Linked DNA regions of Homo sapiens. The protein of the gene in region 4 interacts with the protein of the main gene of each other region in a biochemical or structural test. Each region holds a gene or a part of one and is shown on either strand. Other genes may lie near its edges. The genes, in order: DLG3, PDZK1, SNTG2, ACOT8, ERBIN, SHANK1 and MAST2.

Region 1 (3,500 bases), on a different chromosome or scaffold from region 4:
AAAAAAAACAGAACAATGGATTTTAAAGCATGCAAGAAAAACTAAAATGGAGACAACGGTGAGCTAAATAAAAGACCATCTCTCACAAATGGAGTCTATGAGATTAAATGAAAGTTGATGTAAGAGGAAAATTATGTTTACAAGAAAATGTTGTAGGGATGTTAGAAGTTTCTACATAATCCAGACACTCATAACACTCACTGGTACTTCCTAAAGAACAAAGGTCACTGTAGCCTCCTGGACACATGCCCTAAGGTACCACTGATATACACATCTACTCCACGTCTCTCTTCCCTCTACTGCTCCAGAAGTTCTTTGGCCTGTGAAGCTCATAGAAAAAAAGGGGTGAATGGAGAACCCGCCTGCCTCAGGTGGTCTGAAGGGAGGTGGGAGCTCTGGAGCTGGGCTTCTTGGCCGGATGCTCTGACAGGATCTATAGCCAGGGAGACACCCACGAGTGGTTTCATTTTCCCCAAGCAAGTCAGCCTTCCAGACAGTCCAACTCTAACACATCTTCAAGAGCCGGTACCCAGGGGAAAGGAGCACAGACTGGCTGTGAACTTTAAGAGCTCCCTCTCTGCTTTCTGAAAAGCAGTCAATGTTCTGATAGGACAGAGCCAGCCCCCTGAAAAAGAGATTTTCTTTTGTGTTCCCCAGTTCTCCTACACATCAGACTAAACTCCAGGCTTCTCAACCCTCTTTACCTACTGGCTGATTTCCTTGGGGATCCCCACTTACCCTGTTAGACTCAATCATCCCCGTCCTGGCATGGAACTTCACAGTTTTCAATCGAGCTCTTTCTTTCTTTTCCACCCTGTTTTGGAATCAGAAAGAAGTCCTGTTACTGCCAGTAAATGGTCTCAGCAGTGGGTTGCAGCAGGCACAGCAGCCATTTTTTTGGCTCACTGAGTAAAAACCATGTTGAGTACCGACTCTACCAAAAAGGAATCAAGGCACAAACGTTGCTCTCAAGCAACTTCTAATAGGAAAACAAGAAAGAAATACCAGCAAGAGGGCAGGAAAGGCCTTGCTCATGATCATGACGACTCACCTCTTCTTACTGGGGATCACACCGATCTGCTCACTTTCTCCGTGTGGGGTCACCAGCCTTGCCTGCCACCACTCATCATCAGAGGCATTAATGACATGCAGAATGTCACCATAAGAGAAGCTGAGCCCCTGGCTTGGCAGGCAGCTGTCCCGAGTCCGATCATAATCAAACAGGGCCCTGAAAGGCACAGTGAAAGATGAAGTGATCATCCAACCCTAAATGCCAAGACACTGGCACCTTGAAAAGATGGAAGGCCAACCCAAACAGCACAGACATAGCAGCCTCACAGTATACTAGAAGGATGTCTCCAGGAGACCACATCCTTCTTTCTGAGCCAAAGTGGTAAATATGCACCCGCTTTCAAAGAAACATCTCATTCTCCCAATAAGAAGCATAAGAGAAAATATTTTACAAACCCCATCTCCTCTTGGCTTCTGGATGCAAGATAAAAGTCCAAAGTAGAACTCGCTCAATAGCCCTCTCCCTCACCCACATCCTAGGAAACTAGCTCTAGCAGGGCGCTTTCTCAGTTCACAAACATATCTTCAAAAAGTAGCTAAAGAGAGGACAAAAAATGTTAACTACAATCCCAAACAATGACTGGTAAACACTCCTGAAGCACTAAAGAAAGGGCCCTATGTCCTCGGGCAGCCAAAGAAAAAGCACAGAATGGTAGGGTTGAAAAGACCAATGGGACCATAGAAGTCACCTAGTGCGGTCTCTTTCTCTTACATATGGGGAAACAGAGGTTCAGGGAGGAAAAAATAGTTTGACCTAGGTCATACATCTAACCAACCTGGGACAAAACCCAGGTCTTCTGACAAGACATGCTGTTGTGACATGCTATAAATGATGCAGAGTAAAGAAATAAAAGGGAAGGTGGGAGAAGGTGGGGAGGGAGCTATACAATCCAGGCTTATGGAAAAGGACACCAGCTTGGCTGATGCTAGAAGTCCTAGGAAATGGTATTGGAAATAAAGGTCTGAAGCAAATTTTGGAAGCCCTTGAATAGACAAGATCTAGTGGCCCCTGGAAATCTGAGAGGAGTGACACATCAAAAGAGCCTTAGGAGGTCGGGCGCAGAGGCTCACGCCTGTAATCCCAGCACTTTGGGAGGCTGAGGCGGGTGGATCACCTGAGGTCAGGAGTTCAAGAGCAGCCTGGCCAATATGGTGAAACCCCATCTCTACTAAAACTACAAAAATTAGCTGGGTGTGATGTTGCATGCCTGCAGTCCCAGCTACTCGGGAGGCTGAGGCAGGAGAATCACTTGAACTTGAGAGGTGGAGGTTACAGTGAGCCAAGATTACGACACTGCACCCCAGCCTAAGCGACAGAGCAAGACTCTGTCTCAAAAAAAAAAAGCCAAAAAAAAAGTTTCTACTTTTCACATCCAGTGGAACCTGTCTTCATATGGAGTCACCACAAATGGGTGATTTCAGTGAGAAGTTTGTATTTTTCTACCTGCAATCTAGGCTGTCTTCTTCATATTCTCTGTTAATAAGGTGTTTTCACACCTTTGCACACACAGCCCAAAATCTAGTTCCAAGACTTTGACTTCTACCTGCAATACTGTGGCCTTTGGCTCAGTTGGAAGCTGCAAGTAAAACACACTATCTTACCATATGCAAGCCCAAATGAGATAGGATGTAGTAAAACCATGAAGAGTGAAATACTCACCTACTGCTTACAGCTCTTGAAACAGAGTTCTTAAAAATCAGCGTCAGATGATTTGAAAATGAAAATACCCAAACTCTAACAAAAAGCCCTTTTTTCCCCTCAATTTACACACTCAAAGCAGTAAGGAGAATGGCAGAGGCAGCAGACAAGGAGGTGCTGTCCGAGAGGTGCATTCCGGGCTATGTGTGACAGAATCAAAACTGAATGCATTCTCACTGCCTGAGTCCTGCATTTCCTAAAGCAAGGAAGACATTCTGTCAGCCACTCCTACTAAGAAGAGCATCATGAAGCAACCTCATTCTCAGTGACAATGAGAAACACTGGATGTCATTATGGGTTTCAAAGATTAGAACAAATATAGTAAGGAAAAGAACAGAACTTGAATTAAGCACAAATTAGTTTGGTGAGAGAAGGAAGGAAGATGTTAAAATGAATTTAGGAGGCCGGGCGCGGTGGCTCACGTCTGTAATCCTAACAATTTGGGAGGCTGAGGCAGGCAGATCACTTGAGGTCAGGAGTTCGAGACCAGCCTGGCCAACATGGCAAAACCCCGTCTCTGCTAAAAATACAAAAATTGGCCGGGCATGGTAGCGGGCACCTGTAATTTCAGCTACTCGGGAGGCTGAGGCAGGAGAATTGCTTCAACCTGGGAGGCAGAGGTTGCAGTGAGCCGAGATTGCGCCACTGCACTCCAGCCTGGGTGACAGAGCGAGACTCTGTCTAAAAAATAAATAATAAATAAATAAAATAAAATGAATTAGGGGAGTTA
Region 2 (3,500 bases), on a different chromosome or scaffold from region 4:
GCCACCTCCATCCCTGCCCTCCCGAGATCCAGGTGCAGATTAGGCTGAGCTTCTGGCACTGCTGGAATATAGAGTGTGGTTCAACCCCAGCCCAGAGGGTTCTTACAAGACTGGTCCTTTCTAGAGAGGAGCGCTGCCCTAGATTGTAACCATTCCTCCCGTGTGCATGGGGACAGCACAGTGTAAGGAAAAGACCATGCTTTTGGAGTCAGGCAGAATAAGGTAAGGCCAGACTCTCCCATATATCCTCAGCAGGAACATGTTAGCAAGCTAAGATATCTGTACTTAGCTTCCTAATCTGTGAAATTGTAACATATACCTTATGAGGTCATGATGAGGACTTAACAAGATAATGAATATAAAATTGCTGGCCGAGCGTGGTGGCTCATGCCTGTAATCACTGCACTTTGGGAGGCCGAAGCGGGCGGATCACGAGGTCAGGAGATCGAGACCATCCTGGCTAACACGGTGAAACCCCATCTCTACTAAAAATACAAAAAAAAAAAAAAAGCTGGGTGTGGTGGCGGGTGCCTATAGTCCCAGCTACTTGGGAGGCTGAGGCAGGAGAATGGCATGAACCCGGGAGGTAGAGCTTGCAGTGAACCGAGATCGCACCACTGCACTCTAGCCTGGGTGAAAGAGCGAAACTCCATCTCAAAAAAAAAAAAAAAAAAAAAAATACCTAGCACCATTTTTGGTATATAGTGAACATGCAATTCATGTTAGACCTAACGCTATTCAAATCCAAGAGTAATGTGTACAGTTCTTGGTTCCTCATAGGGGACTTGATTGGCCAACACAAGGTACAGCAATAAAGGTGTCCTGCCTTGCCAGTGGCAGCCAGGAAAGAACCAAACTCTACCAACCCCCAAAATTATAATCAGCAGAGAAGATGTGGGGGCTGAAGAGATCCTGGAAGAAAAGCCCCAAATGTCTCATTCACCTGCATATGTTCTTCTTTGTCCACAAAGACACCATTGATCCTAAGAACTCTGTCTCCATCTTGAAGGCCAGCCTTCTCTGCTGGGCTACACTTCTCAACCACCCGGACCAGGTGGCCCTCGGTGTCCTTCTCAATTCGCAGGAAGAAGCCATAGTTTTGCCCTTCTTGCTTGGACAGTTTACATTCTCGGGGGTTGAAGGTGGAGGTCATTTCTGTGATGAAAAAAATAAATTAATAAAACCATGGAAAAGAGAATCTAATTGGAGTGAGAACCCCATCCTCCATCTCCTATAATTCTGTTCTTCCAATCACCAAATCTAGACTGCTTGGGTAGTAATGCTGGGGGCACAGGAGGACACCTTCCAGAACTTGCTAATGATTTCCAAATCTGTTTCCCCAAGGACAACCTTTTTACTAGAGTTTCAGACCCACGTATTTTTTACTGAGTACTGGACACAGATGCTTCCATTTCAGTATCTCCAACCAAACTCCTCTTTGTCCTCTGACCTAAAGAAATTAAGTCCAAATACATGACCCAAAAAATTTATGACAAGCCCACTCTCATTCAAACATTTGAAGAGCTTTTCAAGTTCAAGGAATCGAGGTTAAATCTGTAGACAAGATGGACCCATACCTTGCCTCTTCTATTGGGGAACATTATTACATTCCTATAACCACACGTGGTGAGTGTCATGCTGGGGAAGAATGCAGTGATAAGGGGGAAAATAACAAAGGGTCTTGGGAATAGGGAGCGGGATGGGAAGAACAAAGAACATTTCCTGAAGGAATGACACTTCCAAGAACTGAAGGATTAGTAGAAGCTTGGTGAGGTAGGACAGGACAAGGAAGAGCTTAAACCATTAAAAAAGGCAGGCACAGTGGCTCACCCCTGTATTCCCAGCACTTTGGGAGGCCGAGGCGGGCAGATCACAAGGTCAGGAGTTTGAGACCAGCCTGGCCAATATGGTGAAACCCCAGCTCTACTAAAATTACAAAAATTAGCCAGGCGTGGTGGCAGCCACCTGTTGTCCCAGCTATTCGGGAGGCTGAGGCAGGATAATTGCTTTAACCTGGGAGGTGGAGATTGCAGTGAGCCGAGATCACACTGCTGCACTCCAGCCTGGGCAATAGAGTGAGACTCTGCCTCAAAAAAAAAGGACACCAGGCCTTAGAGCTGGTCCAATATGTTGGAGATGCACTAGAAAAGGCTGTTCTGGCCCCTGAAGTCTCTAGCCACAGCAGAAAAGAGATGCTCGATAGAAAAGGGATTCCAGTGGCTAGGTTGGGGCTCTCCCTCCCAGACGCTTTGTCACCCAGGCTGCAGTGCAGTGGCGCAATCGCAGCTCACTGCAGCCTCGAATTCCTGGGCTTAGGCGATCCTCCCACCTCAGCCTCCTGAATAGCTGGAGCTACAGGCACATATCACTATGCCCTGCTAACTAATTTTTTTAGAGACAGTGTCTTGCTTTGTTGCCCAGGCTGGTCTCAAACTCCTGGGCTCAAGTGATCTTCATGCTTCAGGCTCCCAAAGTGCTGGAATTACAGAATGAGCCCCCATGCCTGGCCTGAAGCAGCTTCTATTTCCATTCATCCTGCCCCTCCTGTTGCCCCATTGCAGGGGCAAGGTCCTGAGCCATAGGAGGAAGACAGGACAAGTGTAAAACCGACAGCTAGGGCTCCGGCACACAGTTATTATTAAGGGTAAGACTTCTGCCAGTGCCCCGACACCTGCTGGCTGAAAGCTTTTTCTTTTATAGGAGAATAAGAACAGGGGCCAGAACAGCAAGAGGCTGATACAGAAGGCAGAAGGCTCACAACAGAGCACTGGAGTCTGCTCTTCACACCACCTGCAAGGCAAGCCCTCAAGTTCCTCTCATCACAGTTCCCTACCTACAAATCAGAATAAACCACCTATCCCTTCCCTCCTGGAGGGACAAGAACGGATGACCACACAGGATATGGGGGAGGGTGAAGAATAGGCCACAAAGTGCTCCAGGCACCCTAGAAGCCATGGCATGGTGATTGAAGATAGCCATCCCTGACCTTCATGCCCACAGAGACGTACAGTACAAATCAGACAGAGAGCCCCCAGCTGCCCAATACCAGGCCTCTCCTGCAGTCTCCGCAAAGTCTGAAGCCCCACGCCACCAGTGGCACGAGTGACTAAGTAGCGAAGAAAGAAGCAAACAAATAGACTCCCCATCGAGCATTGAGGCAAGAAAACAGCAAAGCCACTCACCAGTGGTCAACACCAGCACCTTGGGAGAGCTAGGCAGCTCTGCCTTATCAAAAGCCATGACCAGCTGCCAGGAAAACACCACTCTGGGATGAAAGGAGAAAATATGGCATCACCAGAGTTGAGTCACATCCAGGCACCTGTTTGTGGCCCATTCCAGCTCCCTCACCTTTCACTCCTCTTTCTGCTGATCCCAACCTGCGAGCATCAGTTCAGTTTCAGCTTGAGTTCACATCTATGTCCAAGCTCACCTGTAGATCCCTACACCTTTCCATTTCATAGGGCCAAAAGACCCCAAAAGAAAAAAAATCAGAAAAGAAA
Region 3 (3,500 bases), on a different chromosome or scaffold from region 4:
AACAAAAATAGTTGATGGTAATTTTAGAATAATATTAAAAGAGATAAAAGTTAGAAGAACCATTTATTCTTAGTGTTTCTTTTCTAATGTAGAAATGTTGACTAGAGAGGTTTAATTTAAAACACAGCCCTATTTTCCCATTGTTTTAGTAAATATTTCATAGGCAGAGGACCTGCTCTTCTCAAGTCCTCCATCGTGAATTCAAATATTCTTGCTAAGCACTATTTAAAGTCTTTTGTGCGCTATTTAAAGCAAAGCGAACATGTTTTTCTCAGTTTTCTTAACTTGAGGCTATGATGCATGCTTCCTTACGCCCCTAAGAGATGTAACCAGAAAATGAATGAACTATAAATAACATACTCCCTTACATTACAAGTTAAATCATAAGTTTATTATAAAGGAAACAGAAGAATAACACAGTGGCTTAAAAACTGATTTGGCTGATATTGAAACAGCTTGATTACCATAGAGTTTTCCTAAGTACTCATAGACGTGGGAAGTGAGCAGAAAATCAGGCCTGAGGGTGGCTACAAAGGTAGCTATCCTGAATCCAGGACAACGTTAAGGGCTCTGGGCTCCAGGTGAACAAACTGCCTGGATTTGGGGATGACAGGATCCTACCCACTGGCAATAACACCCACTGGGCCAAAGCCCTCCTGAGAATGAAGCTTTCCTAGTAAGGATTTTATTTAAGAAAATAATATAATGCTTAAAATTTCAAATTACACAGGTGTGTCATCTCAAAGCCCTTCTCAGTTTAAACAATCATATCTAAATCATCATTTAAATCACGATTCTTTACAAAACATAACTGCCAATAGAGAAATAATCTATACACAGGAGATCAGAATGACCTATGCTATTCCCACAGAAAGAGCAGTTTTATAGAATTAACAGGCAGGGCAGAGACCACCAAATGCAGTCTGAAATGTGCTAATGTTTTCCTATCAACATTTTCAAATCAAATTTCAAAAAACCAGAGACTGCTTTTCGAGATGTGTTACATCATGAATCAGAAAATACAAACCCTACCTGATGTGTTACATCATGAAGCAGAAAATACAAACCCTACCTGGTCGGAAGGAGAGCAGCATTTGTTCGCCATCTTCATCTGTGGAGAGAAGGCAGAAGAGTCAGGGCCACAGCCACCAACACCAGGATGGCTCACCTGAGTGACAGCTGGAAGTCATCAGCCACGCTCTGTCCTGGGAAACAGGCCTCTTTAATGACATATTTCCTATCTGAAGACCTAGCCAGAGTCAATACAAACATGGCAGCAGTAGAAAACAACTTTACTAGCAGGCTTCAATTCCTCTTTTTCAAATATCAGCATTTATGTAAGTGAAGTTACACTTCAAGAGCAGGTGCTTAAATTCCAATATCTGAGAAAAGTGAGGAAATGATTTCTGCTCTACATAACCTTGTGAGAGTCAGTATTACTGTGATGGTAATTACGGTGATCACAGTTGATATTCTTTCTTTTATTTAGTTCTCCCAATGACCTATGGAGGTAGATGTTGTTTTCCAAAATTTCACCGAGGAAGTGGAGGTGCAGAATCATAATGTTCCCACAGCCCACAGCCACACAGCCGGGAGGCAGCTCAGAGTCCACATTTCTGTTCTGAAATATTGGGGTGTCTGACTTCTCTGCCCTGCCTATGAGGGCTGATTTGTGAAATGACAGAACTGAAGGGCGCTCCTCGTCACAAACATTTCTGCAAATATAAGTCAAGCACCATCCTTTCTTCCCTATTTATTGAGATAACTTTGGAATTTAAAGTGTTGCGTTTGAAAACTACAATGTTAGGAAGGTCCTGGTACTTCCTTCTCTGCTTGCAGAAAGGAAGCCCCTGAGGTCTTCACAGGAGAAATGTCACACATTGCTGCTTCCCCCAGTGTTAGGTTAACTTCTGTTTTGCAGCCACAGGAAGAAGGGAGGTTGCAAGGGAGACGTGAGGTGGTGGGCAGGGCAGGGGCAGGGCGGGTGCATCTGCAGGGCCGCAGGGTGGGCCACGCCTGGCCAGTCTGCAAGCTGGACCCAGCCTCTGCAGCCTCCAGGCTGCGAAGGAACAGAGCAGGGATCGAAGTGCAATTACAGGGCAACTCAGCTTAGAGGGAGCAAGGGCAGCAAGGCTGGTCCAGGGCCGCCTCCAGGCACGGCCAGTCCTGCCACAGTTGCCAGGGCTGCGGCCACGGCTCCATGTCCGAGTCCAGGCACCCATCACTCCAGGCAACGCCCGTGTCATCAAGTCTTCGTTCCCACCCCATCTCTTTTCATTTCTTTAATTTTTAAAATCCTGTTGACTTTTAATATCAAACATCACTTAAGGGGACAGAATACTTTTTCGTTTCTGGGGGACTGCAGTACAAATTTGAGAAGTAATGTTTTTGCTCAATTATGCCTTTTTCTAAATCTTCATAATGTTTGGGAGAATTATACTTTTAACTCAATTAGGTTTCCCCAACTCAAAATGTCACACTGTATCAATGCATTTGGGTAAAATATAAAATTATGACATATAACTATTTCTGTATATGTGTGTGGAGAGAAAGAGAGAGGAAGGGAGGGAGAGAGACAGAGGCAGACAGAGGGGAGGAGGAAGACAAAACCAGATGGGAAATTCTCAGCTGTTAGACATTGCCTTACTCTTTGATTTGGAAACATTCTGATGGCTTCATTTTTAATGTTTTTAGACATAGATTTGACACATTGAAACAAGTACATGATTTTCTGTTTCGGGTTAATCATAAATCATCAGAAACATGATGTCTCCATTATTTTTCATGCACGAATGAGCATCAGCAGAGACTCAGAAACACCGTGTGCTCACGTTCTGAAGTGTCAGCTCCCTGATGTTGGCTGAGACCGCCCGCAGCCAGTCGGTGCCATCCTGGGCTGTGTAAAACCGGAGGATCCCAGAGCTGACTCCGTCCAGGGCGAGCACCTCGAACGCATTCCACCTGGGGAGGGAGAGAGCTGTCCAGGAGGCCCCGCAGCGACGGGAGCGGGCCTGCCTCCGTGAGTTTCGAGGCTGATGCTCAGCAGGGCTCTACCCTGGACCCAGGACATGGGGCAACTGCACCACTTCCTCAGGCGCCTCAGTACAGTCAGCAGGCTCGCTGAGACCAAGACCAAACCCCGAATTCCCTTGGTAACAGGAGCTACTTCTAATTCGATGAAACATGAAAAGCACTTTGTCAAGGAAAGAACAGTGCTCCTGAAATTCTGGAGTTATTGTCTGCAGGATTCTTACTGGTTATTCTTTCGAAGACCCTTTGGATGGAGCACTTAAAGCTCCTGATGGGGTGAGGCTGGAGCAGCCCAGCACCCTCTGCACTCAGCATCCACCCTTCTCTAGGACCACCTGTGTGCTTCTGATTGACAGGGGAGCTTTGGGAGAACATAGTCCCCTTCCACTGCTCCATGACACTCCACTTGCTGAGAACTCAATCATGGCAAAGTATTAACAACCAACCGTCTCAAATTCAGTAGTTCTTCC
Region 4 (3,500 bases):
AAGGCACTGGCCAGGGATAAGGCAGCCAACAACAAGCAGGTGAGGGAAGATTTGGAGAGGAAGAGAACTTCCCTGGTTTCCCTGAAGTTCTCACTTTGTCTGAGTCAGGCTGACCTTGAGGAACCCTGACATCTGGGCCATGAGACATCTTGGGGATGACTTTCAACCTTCAGATGAAAGAAGCAGGTCTAGAGAAGTGTTGCTTCCTTCACTCTGATCCAAATGGGGAGTCAACCAGGCACCAGGGCTCAATCAACAGCAATAAACATCACTGTCTGAGGTCAACTGGCTTGCTCAGCTCTCTGTTATCAGGCACTGCCACCAGCAGCACTTCTATCAGAGTGCGAGCTCCTCAAGGTTAAAGGCATTTGAGAAGGGCTTACCAAGAGTCCAGACACTAGACAAAGTTACTTGTGCAGTCTGCTTTCAGACACTGGGAATGAAGTCTTCCTCCCTACCACCAAACTTGGGGGGAAAAAACAAAAAAAAACCTCTAATCCAATCCTTGGTCTGCAGGTAAGCTAAAGTGCAGATTCCTGAGGAGGATCACAGAAACTTCAGTACTCTGGTCTACCTTTCAGTGTGAATGAGTTCCAGCCCTATTCTTGAAAATTGTTATTGGAACAGAGCAGGTAGGCCCTGAGGCATATTGAAGGGAGTTAATGATTATGGAGTGATGCAGGGTGCCTGACAGCATTGGACAGGAGGGTATGTTTTCTCATGTTGGTCTCACAATAACTATGTAGAGCCACTCTTACCCCCATTGTACAGATGAGGAAACTGTTGCCTTAAAATACAATTTTTTTGTAATAAAGTCATGCTAATTTGTTTACATATTGTCTATAGTTGCTTTCACTGGCAAAACCTAAAATGTTTACTATCTGGCCCTTTCTAGAATGTTTGCTGACCTTGTTCTGAATTCTTCAAGCTCTAAATTTACCTCTGTAGAGAAAAACTAAAAACAAAACAAAAACCCAACTAATTCACATTCTTTCCTGGGCTTTTAGAAAAAGAACTGATTTGATAAATGGCCAAGGACCAACCCTCCCCCTCCCCCATAACATCTTTTATTTTTAAAATGTAATTGAAACATCTCTTTTTTGTTTTGTTTTTTTGAGATGGAGTCTCGATCTGTCGCCCAGGTGGGAGTGCAGTGGCGCAGTTTTAGCTCACTGCGACCTCCAGCCGCCGGGTTCAAGCAATTCTCCTTGCCTCAGCCTCAGCCTCAGCCTCCCGAGTAGCTGGGATCACGGGCTAAGGTCACCACGCCCAGCTAATTTTCCTTTTTTTTTTTAGATGGAGTCTTGCTCTGTCACCCAGGCTGGAGTACAGTAGCACGATCTCAGCTCACTGCAACCTCCACCTCCAGGGTTCAAGCGATTCTCCTGACTCAGCCTCCTGAGTAGCTAGGACTACAGGTGTGCACCACCACACCTGGCTAATTTTTGTGTGTGTTTTTTTTTTTTAGTAGAGATGGAGTTTCGCCACATTGTCCAGGCTGGTCTCGAACTCTTGACCTCAGCCGATCTGCCCGCCTCGGCCTCCCAAAGTCCTGGGATTACAGGCATAAGCCACATGCCCAGCCAAAAAACAGCATTGGTTTTAATATCTGATATAGCTGGCAGAGTCACACCACAAACAGATAAGAGCTCTCCCCTTTTTGCCTTGCAGCCAGGAAGCTCAGAACTAAACCTTGTATGAAACTGCAACAATATGGCTTAGCCAAATTTTTTGACATGATCGCTTCTCCCAAATCCCATTACTACTGGCCTAATGTCCTTTGACTTTTAATATTCCCATAATAACTACCAATTATTTTAGCTATCTTGCAGCCTTTCAAGACACAAGCAAGGGCACAAATAATTATTTTTATTTATTTATTTATTTTTGATGGAGACAAGAGTCTCGCTCTGTCGCCCAGGCTGGAGTACAGTAGCATGATCTCAGCTCACTGCAACCTCCGCCTCCTGAGTTCAAGCAATTCTCCTACCTCAGCCTCCTGAGTAGCTGGGACTACAGGCACATGCCGCCATGCCTGGCTAATTTTTAGTATTTTAGTAGAGACTGGGTTTCACCATGTTGCCCAGGCTGGTCTCGAACTCCTGAGCTCAGGTGATCCGCCCGCCTCGGCTTCCCAAAGTGCTAGGATTACAGGCATGAGCCACCACGCCCGGCCAAATAATTATTTATTTTGAAATGGTGGCTTGGACACAGCTCATTTCACGCTGCTCCTGGATGAAGACTTTCCAAGAAAGAGGATCTTTTCCCCAGAACCTGGGATGGGTACCCTGGCAGCTCTCTCATTGTTTAGAATTATTGCCCAAGAGCGAAGCAAAGAAGCAGGAAAGAGTTTGGCACTCAAAGACACATAAACCAGGTTCAAATCCTGGCTCTGCCTCCTTGGGCACTGTGGGAGCTGGTTCCAAACCTCTTCAGGTCCCAGTTTCCTTAGGTAAGAATGATGGCAGGAATGCCTGCCACCCATGTTTACTTATGAAGACTAAACAAGATAATGCACACAACTATGCTCTGTATCATGCAAATTTTAATTATTCCCATAAGTTAATCATCAAAAACTAATAATATTTATGGAAAACTAGATTATGCCAAGCCCTGCACTAGATACTTTACTGGCAAAGACTCATTGAATTCTTCCATCACAGGATGAAGAGATTCAGAGTTCAAGTAATGCCCCCACCCACACAAAAGAAAACAGCCAGGTATTTCACTAGGCTGGAAGGATTACAATATCAAAAGGCTGGTACTTACAAACAAATTAAAGAAACAAAGCACATATTTACTCCCAACTAGCATAAAGATAAGAACCTGGCTGAGCCCAAGGTAAGTATTCAAATACTTTATAGCAGTGACTGGGGGCCGAGAAGAGGGGGGCCAATCAATACTCCTCAGGGATGAGGAGTAAGAGACACGGGACAGTATGAAAAAGTGTATTTACCATTACAGGGATAACTTTCATATTTACAAAATGAAGGGGGAAACCCCATGGTTTTCTTAATACAAATCACATACTGTAAAGGTCCACAAACTCTTCTCAGCTGGGGATCTACGCAGAACACATGAGGGCATCTGCTCTGGGGGTAACAGGGAAGGAAAGAAAACAGTGAGGGTTTTTTTTGTTTGTTTTTTAGCATAGGTTTTGCTTTTATTTTCCTTTTATTTATTTTTTTGTAGAGACAAGGTCTCGATTTATTGCCCTGGCTGGTCTTGAATTCCTGGGTTCCAACAATTCTCCGCATTGGCCTCCCAATGTGCGGGGATTATAGGCATGAGCCACCACACATAGGTTTTTTGTTTTTGAGACAGAGTCTCGCTCTGTTGCCCAGGCTGGAGTGCTCGCCCAGGCTGGAGTGCAGTGGCACGATCTTGGCTCACTGCAAGCTCCGCCTTCCGGGTTCACACCATTCTCCTGCCTCAGCCTCCCGAGTAGCTGGGACTACAGGCACCCACCACCACACCTGGCTAATTTTTTTATATTTTTA
Region 5 (3,236 bases), on a different chromosome or scaffold from region 4:
TAAAACACTATTACACTGATACACATAGAAACCCTTTAAAGACTCTGGAAGTGTTGAGTTCACATTTAATGTTACCTGTAGAAACAGCCCTTTATTTGAACACCTTTACACACTGGCAGGCCTCAAGGACCCATCCCTTTGCTCTATAACTCTCCACAGCAATTCTCTATCACTGTGCCAGTTTCACAAAGCTTGCTTTGGTTTCCTAGCTCCAAGTGTACTGTTTCCTTTTACTTTACCAAGGCAATGCAAGGCCAAACAAAAATCAAAGAGGCTTTCCTAAACCTTCGTAACATTTTGTGTTACAGGCAACACAATCTTAAAACTGGCCATTTTTGTTTCATTTGCTGCTTAAAATAAAAATTATAAATTAGATTTAAATGGAGCACTAATTATAAAACAGATTGCAAGTACCACCATTTGAAAAAAAAAAAAAAATCAGTGGATTTCCATAACACAGAAAATGCATGGACATGCATCTACAGTAGAGTTAAAAATTTCCTGTGACTAAAAAATTAAAAACTGAATCACCAGTAGCAAATGTATAGTCAATGGCTATGACAAGAACAGATCCTGCCGAGCTCATAAATGCAATTATTGTCTTTTTTGCTTTATAAAAAAGACATTACATATTTTATTGCATTATTCTCCTAATAAAAACATACTACCACGTAGCTCTCCCCATCCCCATTCTTTGCTTCCAGATTTTTATAGAAAATAACTGTTTTAGTCTGGCCTTGGAAAGTGAACCCACCAGCACCACCTTCACCTACTCACTCTTCAATTCAATATGCACATAGCAAAAGCCAACACTTCAAATCTCTTGCCCACATCAAAAAAAGTAGTTTCAGGAGAAAAACATTAATACCAGTTGAATAAAAATAAGGGCATAAAAGCTATGAGAGAGATAGCTCTGCCATCTGTCTCTGGGCTAAAATCAAGGCTAACTATTGCCTTGCACACAGTTCAGTCATGTATATGAAATCCAAAAATAAACCTACAATCTATACAAAAACAACACAGGTTTGTTTTTGTAGCCTTGATTGCTATGTTTAAAAACCTAACAAGTTTTATATGGTATGAATTCAACAGTCTCCTTTATATTCTGTACAGTGGTTCTTTCCCTCTAACCACAAGTTCCATTATTTCATTAATGTACAAATTTGAACATAATTTTTTGAGTTCTTCTTTATATATAAAAATAGTCAAAATATTAATTTCCCCTGTAAGTATCTTCCAATAAATCTTGCTGTCTTCCCCGCTTTTTTTGTCCACAGTGCTTATGAGGAAACTTCTCGTACAATGATGAGTTCAACTGTATTCTGGAAAGTTTTTAGCAAGGACACTGCTTGTCCATGTTCAATATTTATAAAACTGTAGCCATTAGCCTAGAAGAGGAAAAATGCTTTTAGGAAAAACATTTTATAGTTATTTATTTGCATTTCTGCCAAGTAGTTCACAAACTTGGAAGAAAATAAGAATCACTTTGGCAACTTAAAATAACATACAGATTCACAGGCCCTACCCAAACCAAGGAATAAAGTCTCTGAAGATGGGGTCTAAAAATGTGTATTTTGTCCAACTTCTCAGCCAATTCTTATGTAGCAGCCCAATGTTAGAAATCACTTACTTAAGAAATAATGTCAGACATGGTGTCGTATAATGCTAATGTGTATCTGAGGTGACCAAACTGTAGCGTAGCAGGGGGCAAGGGCTACTCTTCCCATTGTCTTGGAGCCATCACATCAAGACCACCATATTTCTTACAATTAAGCTTAATATTTACTGAGGTTCTACTGTGTACCAAACACACAATTCTAAGGGTGTAATATGAATTAGATCCTTTGATTCTCATAATGCTCAAAAAAGATTCTTTCACTATCTTATTTTAGAGAAGAGAAAGCCCAGGCATGGAGAGGCAAAGTAACTTGCTCAGTCACAAATTGAAACCCAAATGGTTCAGAAAAATAAATGTGTATAACTGTATGAGTGAGTGTGACTGTGTGTGTGTGTGTATGTGTGTGTGTGTGTGTGTGTGTGTGTGTGTGTGTAGAGGGAGGGAGGGAGAAAAAGAGAAGAAAGAGGAGAATAAATGATAAAGACAATGTAGCAAATTATGAACGACTGGTGACCAATTGATGTAATACTGGTGTTTGTTGTAGTATTTTTGTGGCTTTTTTCTAAGCTTAAAATTATTCAAAAAAAATTTTTTTTAATTAGTTTTATTTTTAGAAAGTGTTGGGACCAGAATTTAAACTCAGGCAGTCTGGCTTTCAGAATCTGTACTTTCAGCTATTAGACATTAATGTCTCTCTCTCCCTTTTTTTTTGGTTTGAGGATTATTTTTTAAGTTCTTTAGTTCTCAGCTAAGAACGGTGACAGTAGGGGTAGAAAATGAGAGCTATACTTGTGTCCTAGGTTTGTCTTCCTTCTAAGACTGTAAGTGTTTAGGTAAAATGAGTAGCTGAATGAACAAAGAAAAGGAGGGGACAGGAAAAAATGAGTTTCGCAGATTTAAAATTTTTCTTCTCCATTTCTGAAAGGACAATAGCCCACATCCAAGAAGTGGTACTCTAATCCCCCTCAAATTAGTAAAAATTAACATTCCTGAGCTTAAACAAAATCCTATGATGTATCAAACTTTTTTTTTTTTTTTTTTTGAGACAGAGTCTCGCTCTGTCGCCCAGGCTGGAGTACAGTGGCGCGATCTCGGCTCGCTGCAAGTGCCGCCTCCCGGGTTCACGCCATTCTCCTGCCTCAGCCTCCCACCCACAATTTTCAAAGTTAAAGTGAAAACATTTTAAACTGTGAAAACATTAGAGTGTTATAAAATGAAAAAAAAAAAGATTTATTTTAATTACCTGAATAATTTTATCACCTGGCTGCAGTAATTTTGATGCTGGTCCTTCAGGTTGTACCCTTGTTACAAATATACCCTTTAACAACAAAAAAAATTATTTAACTAAAAACAGTATGTATAAATAACAGAGTACCAAGGAGCAATTTTTCCTCCACACCATGCAAATATTTGAATCATGGTACAAGTTTTCTCCCTGACTTCTCTGAGTAATACTGTAACAAACTAGTTATTTTTACCTCTAGTAATTCTGACTTTAGTGATTTCTCTTGAGAGTAATAAAATTACTTTTATAGGTGTGTGAAAAAGCAATAAGAAAGTTAAAAATCATTTCATTATATCATAAACATTCATAGTTTTTGGTTAAATTGTTTTAACT
Region 6 (3,500 bases), on a different chromosome or scaffold from region 4:
CCTCCTGAGTAGCTGGGACTACAGGTGCCCGCCACCACACCCGGCTAATTTTTTGTATTTTTAGTAGAGATGGGATTTTACCATGTTAACCAGGATGGTCTCGATCTCCTGACCTTGTGATCTGCCTGCCTCGGCCTCCCAAAGTGCTGGGATTACAGGCGTGAGCCGCTGCGCCCGGCCCACTCTTTTTTTTGTTTTCCATAGCACGTACAACTGCTAACATACTAGATAATTTTCTTGCTTATTTTCCTTATAATCCATTATCTGTCTTCCCCTGCTATAAGGCAAGCCCATGAGGGCAGGAACCTTTAGTCTGTTTTATTCGCTGACGTATCCCCATTCTAGAACAATTCCTGGCATGTGGGGAGCGCTTGGTAAACACTTGTAAAATGAATGAATGGATGGAATCGGGTATAAGAGAAACAACCAGAAAGCTGTAGCGGGGGCTTTAGCTCACTGCATCCCCATTCTCCAGATGTAGAGCCAGAGGCCCAGAGAAGTCAAGCCACCTGCCCCAGTTCACACAGCTGGGAAGGAGGGGAGCCAGGATTCATGGCCAAGTTCACCCATTTCCAAAGCCTGAACTCTTAACCCAATTTGATGAAACTATGGTCTCTCTGGGAGCACAGAACATTTCCAAGTCTGCTTGCTTTTCCTGAACTGTCACGTTCCTGGCCTCCCCCAGCCCCCACATCTCTTCTTCTGGGTGGCATACCGATAGATTTTTGCCGGAGCATCAACCCAGGTCCTGGAGGCAGGAAAGAAGGACGCTCGTAACTTGGCTGGGCACGGTGGTGGGGATCGAAGCTCGACTTTGGAGCGGCAGTCAGAGGGGGAGAGAGAGAAAAGATAGAGAGAGATCAGTCAGCGCAGAAAGGCTTGTGGCTTCACTATACGGCTGCCCCCATTCCTTCCCTAAGCCCCTGCCGTAAGGGAGAGCAGTGTGAAGACGGTGGAAGGAGGCCGGGCAACGTGGCTCACGCCTGTAATCCCAGCACTTTGGGAGGCTGAGGCAGGAGGATCACCTGAGGTCAGGAGTTCAAGACCAGCCTGGCCAACATGGCAAAACCTCGTCTCTCTACTAAAAATACAAAAATTAGCCAGGCATGGTGGCAGGCGCCTGTAATCCCAGCTACTCGGGAGGCTGAGGCTTGAGAATCACTTGAACCCATGAGGTGGAGAGGTGGAGGCTACAGTGAGCCAAGATCACACCACTGCACTCCAGCCTGGGCGACAGAGCCAGACTCTGTCTCAAAAAAAAAAAAAAAAAAAAAAAAAGAAAAGAAGGCGAAAGGGAATTCTGCGGGAATGAAAAGCCTCAAGTCTGGGCAGGAAGGAGAAAGAAAGGAGAAGAAAGCAGATTTTCCATCGACTCTTGATCTGCTTCCTTCCTCCAGCCACTGCCCACATCCAGGTCCCCACCAGTGTTCTCCGGGATGGAGCAGCCTCTTCCCTCATCTCCCTGCTGCCATCCTTGATCCCCCACCCTGTTCCAGTCTGTTTTCCACACAAGAGTCAGAGGCATCTTTCAAAAAGCATGCTATTGCCCCTGCTTGAAATCCCATGTCAGTTAGGAGGAGATCAGAGGGGACCAAACTCCCAACTCTGGTCTACAAGACCCTCTATGGCAGGCACTGCTGGTGCCCCTGCAGCTGCCCTCCCCCTGGATGCAGCATCCCATCCCTCACCCACTGCTGGGAGGGTCACCTGCCTGCAGCCCTTAAGAATCACCCTCCTTCAGAGTCCTGGACTCGCCCAGTCCGTTATGTGTCCCTGCTTCCTGGAGCAGCCCACAGCCCACGATGGACGGATACGGAGGCCCGAGGCAGCACTAAAGCCGGGGTGCCCAGCCTGACCCCATGGGTTCCCACTCCAGCGTGAACCGTGTCTGCTTGACTTCCTTCCACAACCCCAGCCAGTCTCCCACACTCCCTGAAGGTTCCCCCGTAGCAAACCCTTGGTACAGGAATCCCCACCTCCGGCTCCCGTTCTAGGGAAGCCCACACGAAGACAGGTCCTGCAGGCGGGACCCAGCCCTGCCCCCATTTCCCACTTGCTCCCTTGGTCCACCTCCACCCCCACCTCTTCCTTCTCCTCTGTCAGCCCCAGGTCTACCCTCATTGGAGAACACCTGCGAGCCCTGGTTCTCTCGGCAACAGCTTTCCCTCTTATTGTCACAGTTCCTTTTCAGCGCGAAGTTCTCCTCGGCGAGACCTTCCCCGGCCCCCTACCCAGACTGCACTTCCCTCTGTCCCATTTTCTTCACAGCATCTCTCTTCCCCAGAAACCATCTTGTTTACTTGCTGTCTGTTTCCTCCACTAGCCTAGAAACTCCCTGAAGGCGGGGCTGATGTATCCCAGGCATCGCACCTACAGTGTCTAGGGCCCATGATGCTTTTAGGGGAAGTGTTTTCATTTCTTTTCAAAGTAGAAGTGAAAGAAAAAAAGAAAAGAGAAAATTGTACCCTGGATAATATCGGTCTTTGCAGCAACAAAGTCATAAAATTTAAACTTTTTTTTTTTTTTTTGAGACAGGGCTGGAGTGCAGTGGCGTTAACACGGCTCACTGCAGCCTTGGCCTCCCGGGCCCAAGCGATCCCAACCCCAACCTTCTGAGTAGCTGGGACTATAGGCAGGCACAATCACATCCAGTTAATTTTTAAATTTTTTTGCAGAGGCGAGTTCTTGCTATGTTGCCCAGGCTCATCTCAAATTCCTGGGCTCCAGCGATCCTCCCACTTTGGCCTCCCCAAAAGTTCTCAGATTACAGGCATGAGCCACCGTGTTGGCCTATTTTTTTTTTTTTTAATGCAGAAGGGCAAAAGTGCCTAAGGTTCATGGAAGTCATTATGAAACCTGCCTGAGGGTAGGGTAGTGACTTTATCAGTCTCCTTTCCTACTGAGTCCCCGGTCCCCGCATAGGGCCTGCTGTTCTACAAGCAAGTGTTAGATGAGTAACAGGGAGAATCAGCCAAGGTCAGGCACTTCGGGGCCCTGACTCCCCAGCTTCTGCCAGGTCACCCCATGTGTCTCCCTTCTCCATCTTTGAGACCAGAAGTGCAGAGAAAGGGAGCCCTCTCGGAATGAAGTTCGCACCTTTGGGATGAACCCTTACTTCCTGCACTTCCCACTATACCCCCTCCTGCCTCTTTCCTCCAGCCATTCACAACCATTCCCAGTTCCCTCGCTTCTCACTTCCGAGACTCTGCATGGAGCATCCTTTCCCTGGGCTCTGGGCTCTGCTTGGGAAAGCTCTGTTATCTTAGCCCTCCACCCTGGCCCGGCTACCCGCTTCCTTTAGGCCTGCAGTGCCCCCCTAGAGCAGCCACTAGCCATTCAACTGTACATTTCAGGCCAACGTGGTGGCTCATGCCTGAAATCTCAACATTAGGGAGGATCGCTTGACCCCAGGAATTTGAGACCAGCCTGGGCAGCATAGGGAGACTCTGTCTCTACAAAAATAAAAATTACAAAAATTGCTGGGCACGGTGGCTCATGCC
Region 7 (3,500 bases), on a different chromosome or scaffold from region 4:
CTCTCGCCCAGGCTGGAGTGCAGCGGCACATTCTCAGCTCACTGCAACCTCTGCCTCCCGGATTCAAGCGATTCTCTTGCCTCAGCCTCCCGAGTAGCTGGGATTACAGGCATGCACCACCATGCCTGGCTAATTCTCTATTTTTAGTGGAGATGGGGTTTCACCATGTTGGCCAGGCTAGTCACGAGCTCCTAACCTCAGATGATCTGCCCGCCTTGGCCTCCCAAAGTGCTGGGATTACAGGCGTGAACTACCACGGCCTAATTTTTTATTTTTTGTAGAGGTGGTATCTTACCATGTTGCTCAGGCTAGCCTCGAACTCCTGGGCTCAAGTGATTCTCCCACCTTGACCTCCCAAAGTGCTGGGATTATGGGCATGAGTGCCCAGTTTGTTTTTCAAATTGAAATATAATTCATGGCTACTTGTGAAAAGTTTTCATTGTGAAATAGTTACAGAGAGAAATATGTAAAAGTCCTGGGAACCTTTAAATTACTAAATCTGATAGTCTTTTCCTCATCTTGTCTGACCTCTGTGAACTATTTGTCACTGTTGACTGTGTGTTCCTTGTTGACATTTTTTTCTTTTTTAATATTATAATATCCATTCTGTTACTGCTTCTCTAACTGCTCTCTTGTGTGTCTTTGTCTTGTGTTTTCTCTTCCTGTTCCTGAAATGTTCCTTGAGGACATGTCCTCTGTCCTTAGCTTGATCCTTTATTGTGCTCTATTTAGCAGGCTCATTCTGTTTGTAGATGTTGAGGATGTAGAACAAGGGTCTGCAGTCCTCTTTATTTATGGCATTGTGTCACAGAACATCCTTGTAAAGTGAGCTGAGTCTCTTTAGGTGTGACCTCTTTCCTTAGCTCTACATTTCCATTTTTGTGCTTAACATTTCCACCGTAGACTCATCATTTGTGTTCTTAACATTTGTGATTTTTTTTTTTTTTTGAGACAGGGTCTCACTTTGTTGCCCAGGCTGGAGTGCAGTGGTGGGACCTCAGCTCACTGCAACCTTCGCCTCCCAGGCTCAAGTGATTCTCCAGCTTCAGCCTCCCCAGTAGCTGGGATTGCAGGCGTCCGCCACCACGCCTGGCTAATTTTTGTATTTTTAGTAGAGACGGGGTTTCACCATGTTGGCCAGGCTGATCTCGAACTCCTGACCTCAGGTGATCCACCCACCTCGGCCTCCCAAAGTGCTGGGATTACAGGTGTGAGCCACTGTGCCCGGCCTAACATTTGTGAGTTTTATAATTTGATAGTGACCTTGAAAGTTCATAATTTGTAATAATTTATGATTTTAAAAAGGCCAAAATTTTCATTGTATGTGTCGAGACTGGTTGAATTCTATTTATTTGGGTAGTAAGAGCCCAGCTGATCAGCAAGCATCTACATCTCACACGTAACTTTTTTTTCCCTTTCTCATGACATGGAACAGTGCTTGTTACAGTTTTTATTATACTAGTATTTAAGAATACGTTCTAATCAGGATGTAGGACTTGGATCTCCAGAAGGTCAGTGGTTTACTGTATCATGAAAATAGAATAATTTCTGTGTTGAAATGTGCTTCTCTCTGTATCTTTCCTTTTTGTCATCCAACATGAAATTATATCCATGGCTTTTTTTGTTTGTTTTATTTTGAGATGGAGTCTTGCTCTGTCGCCCAGGCTGGAGTGCAGTGGCGCGATCTCGGCTTATTGTAACCTCTGCCTCCCAGGTTCAAGCGTTTCTCCTGTCTCAGCCTCCTGAGTAGCGCATGCCTGGCTAATTTTTTGTATTTAGTAGAGATGGGGTTTCACTGTGTTGCCCAGGCTGGTCTCGAACTCCTGAGCTCAGGCAATCCACCCGCCTTGGCCTCCCAAAGTATTAGGATTACAGGCGTGAGCCACCGTGCCTGGCCCACATCTGTAGTCTTTTACTTCTTCTCCTTTGACTCCCTTAGCCAGTCTGGCATTAGGTTCTCTCGATTCTGCCTTCATGAAATCTTTCAAACCATTATTCCCATTGTCACTACCTTAATTTCATATTTATAAACTTTAGTCTTGGTTGTTGCAGTATCTTAACTGTATTTACTCAGTCTTCAGTCTCTTAACCTCTAATATATTTCACGTTCTATTAACAAAAGATTGGAACTCATTGCCTCCCTGGCTAATGGTAAGTGCTTTATAAATACTCGTTAAATGTTCATTTCATTTCTCCTTATTCATATACCTTCATTAGCTTCTTATTACCCATAGAATTAAGCCTGAAGACCTTGGCATTCAAGATCTACTTGATACTTAGCACTTTTTGTTAGAAGAGTCAGTTAGTTGCCACTTCTCTTGGTTCCTTAGGACCGTCTGCTTTTCTCGATCATGGCATACAATATTAAAATTATCTTGTTTCTCTCATTAGTAAGTTCTTTGAGAGTCAGACTGTTCCATTTACTTCTGTATACCTAGGGCTTAGTATAGTACTTGAAACATAGTTATTTGTGTATTTATTAGAAACATAGATATTTGCTCAATGTCCTAATTGATTGTAAGTCAGTCAAATGAATTCCTCTGAGGCTGTCTTAATCATCATGGTATCTTCAGCCTCTAGTATTTTAACTGGTATGTAATAGACATTCAGTAAGTAATTGTTTATTGTTAGGCACTTTGATATACTTTAATTAGTCATCAGTTTGAGAAGCTCTTTATTCTCTGCTTCCGCATATTAAAATTCTACTCAGTTTTCCAGGCCTAACTCAAATGCCACAGAAACTTCTGTGAGGCCAGGTGTGGTGGCTCATACTTGTAATCCCAGCACTTTGGGAGGTTGAGCAGGCGGGTTGCTTGAGCTCAGGAGTTTGAGACCAGACTGAGCAACATGGTGAAACCCCATCTCTACAAAAAATACAAAAATTAGTCGGGGTTGGTGGTGCGCGCCTGTGGGCCCAGCTACTTGGGAGGCTGAGGTGGGACCCCTGGAAGTTGAGGCTGCAGTGAGCCAAGGTTGTACCACTGCACTCCAGTCTGGGTGACAGAATGAGACCGTGTCTCGTAAAGAAAGCAAAAAACAAACAAACAAAAAACAAAAACAAAACCACACACCCAAAAAGAAACTCTTCTGCAAAGTTGTTTTTCCACATGGGATCCTAGGAGGATCCTTAATTGGGCTTCAGGAAATCTGTGAATGTCCTGAAATTCCAGTTCTCAAAATTCTGTGGTTTAAAAGTGAAAGCTTAGGTTCCAAGAGATCAAATGCAAAAATGACTGGAAAGCACATAATAAGTAGGTGCTTAATAAGTAGTCTTATCTCATTTTGTTTCTGTAACATATTGTTTGATCCATTCCTGGTCATATAAAGTAGATGCTGAATAAATATTTGCTGAATGAAAGGATGAATCAGTGTTTTAGCACTTTCAACTTTCTGTGTTCATTTGTATTTCATTTTTGCTTTTAAGTTGCATGTTATTGAAGGTAAGAACTATGTCATCATTTTGTCTAACAATGCAGAGCTAAAGGCTTTGCTCACAATAG

Evidence for each region.
Region 1: the proteins of ACOT8 (region 4) and DLG3 interact in a test that uses a peptide from one of them, tested with the Homo sapiens proteins (one large-scale study listed by IntAct).
Region 2: the proteins of ACOT8 (region 4) and PDZK1 interact in a test that uses a peptide from one of them, tested with the Homo sapiens proteins (one large-scale study listed by IntAct).
Region 3: the proteins of ACOT8 (region 4) and SNTG2 interact in a test that uses a peptide from one of them, tested with the Homo sapiens proteins (one large-scale study listed by IntAct).
Region 5: the proteins of ACOT8 (region 4) and ERBIN interact in a test that uses a peptide from one of them, tested with the Homo sapiens proteins (one large-scale study listed by IntAct).
Region 6: the proteins of ACOT8 (region 4) and SHANK1 interact in a test that uses a peptide from one of them, tested with the Homo sapiens proteins (one large-scale study listed by IntAct).
Region 7: the proteins of ACOT8 (region 4) and MAST2 interact in a test that uses a peptide from one of them, tested with the Homo sapiens proteins (one large-scale study listed by IntAct).

Annotation. Positions count from the first base shown.
Region 1 is NC_000023.11:70,489,835-70,493,334, reverse strand, and holds part of DLG3 (disks large homolog 3), read right to left. Parts: intron 1,229-3,500; coding exon 1,052-1,228; intron 815-1,051; coding exon 739-814; intron 1-738. UniProt on the Homo sapiens protein: Required for learning most likely through its role in synaptic plasticity following NMDA receptor signaling.
Region 2 is NC_000001.11:145,686,869-145,690,368, forward strand, and holds part of PDZK1 (Na(+)/H(+) exchange regulatory cofactor NHE-RF3), read right to left. Parts: exon of another isoform or gene 3,241-3,500; coding exon of another isoform or gene 3,183-3,240; intron 1,156-3,182; coding exon of another isoform or gene 1,154-1,155; coding exon 944-1,153; intron 1-943. UniProt on the Homo sapiens protein: A scaffold protein that connects plasma membrane proteins and regulatory components, regulating their surface expression in epithelial cells apical domains.
Region 3 is NC_000002.12:1,237,349-1,240,848, reverse strand, and holds part of SNTG2 (gamma-2-syntrophin), read right to left. Parts: intron 2,962-3,500; coding exon 2,832-2,961; intron 1,112-2,831; coding exon 1,073-1,111; intron 1-1,072. UniProt on the Homo sapiens protein: Adapter protein that binds to and probably organizes the subcellular localization of a variety of proteins. May link various receptors to the actin cytoskeleton and the dystrophin glycoprotein complex.
Region 4 is NC_000020.11:45,850,893-45,854,392, forward strand, and holds part of ACOT8 (acyl-coenzyme A thioesterase 8), read right to left. Parts: intron 3,062-3,500; exon of another isoform or gene 3,031-3,061; intron 1-3,030. UniProt on the Homo sapiens protein: Catalyzes the hydrolysis of acyl-CoAs into free fatty acids and coenzyme A (CoASH), regulating their respective intracellular levels. Displays no strong substrate specificity with respect to the carboxylic acid moiety of Acyl-CoAs.
Region 5 is NC_000005.10:66,076,575-66,079,810, reverse strand, and holds part of ERBIN (erbin), read right to left. Parts: intron 2,937-3,236; coding exon 2,862-2,936; intron 1,389-2,861; coding exon 1,281-1,388; 3' UTR 1-1,280. UniProt on the Homo sapiens protein: Acts as an adapter for the receptor ERBB2, in epithelia. By binding the unphosphorylated 'Tyr-1248' of receptor ERBB2, it may contribute to stabilize this unphosphorylated state.
Region 6 is NC_000019.10:50,671,303-50,674,802, forward strand, and holds part of SHANK1 (SH3 and multiple ankyrin repeat domains protein 1), read right to left. Parts: intron 813-3,500; coding exon 716-812; intron 1-715. UniProt on the Homo sapiens protein: Seems to be an adapter protein in the postsynaptic density (PSD) of excitatory synapses that interconnects receptors of the postsynaptic membrane including NMDA-type and metabotropic glutamate receptors via complexes with GKAP/PSD-95 and Homer, respectively, and the actin-based cytoskeleton.
Region 7 is NC_000001.11:45,806,612-45,810,111, forward strand, and holds part of MAST2 (microtubule-associated serine/threonine-protein kinase 2), read left to right. Parts: intron 1-3,500. UniProt on the Homo sapiens protein: Appears to link the dystrophin/utrophin network with microtubule filaments via the syntrophins. Phosphorylation of DMD or UTRN may modulate their affinities for associated proteins. Functions in a multi-protein complex in spermatid maturation.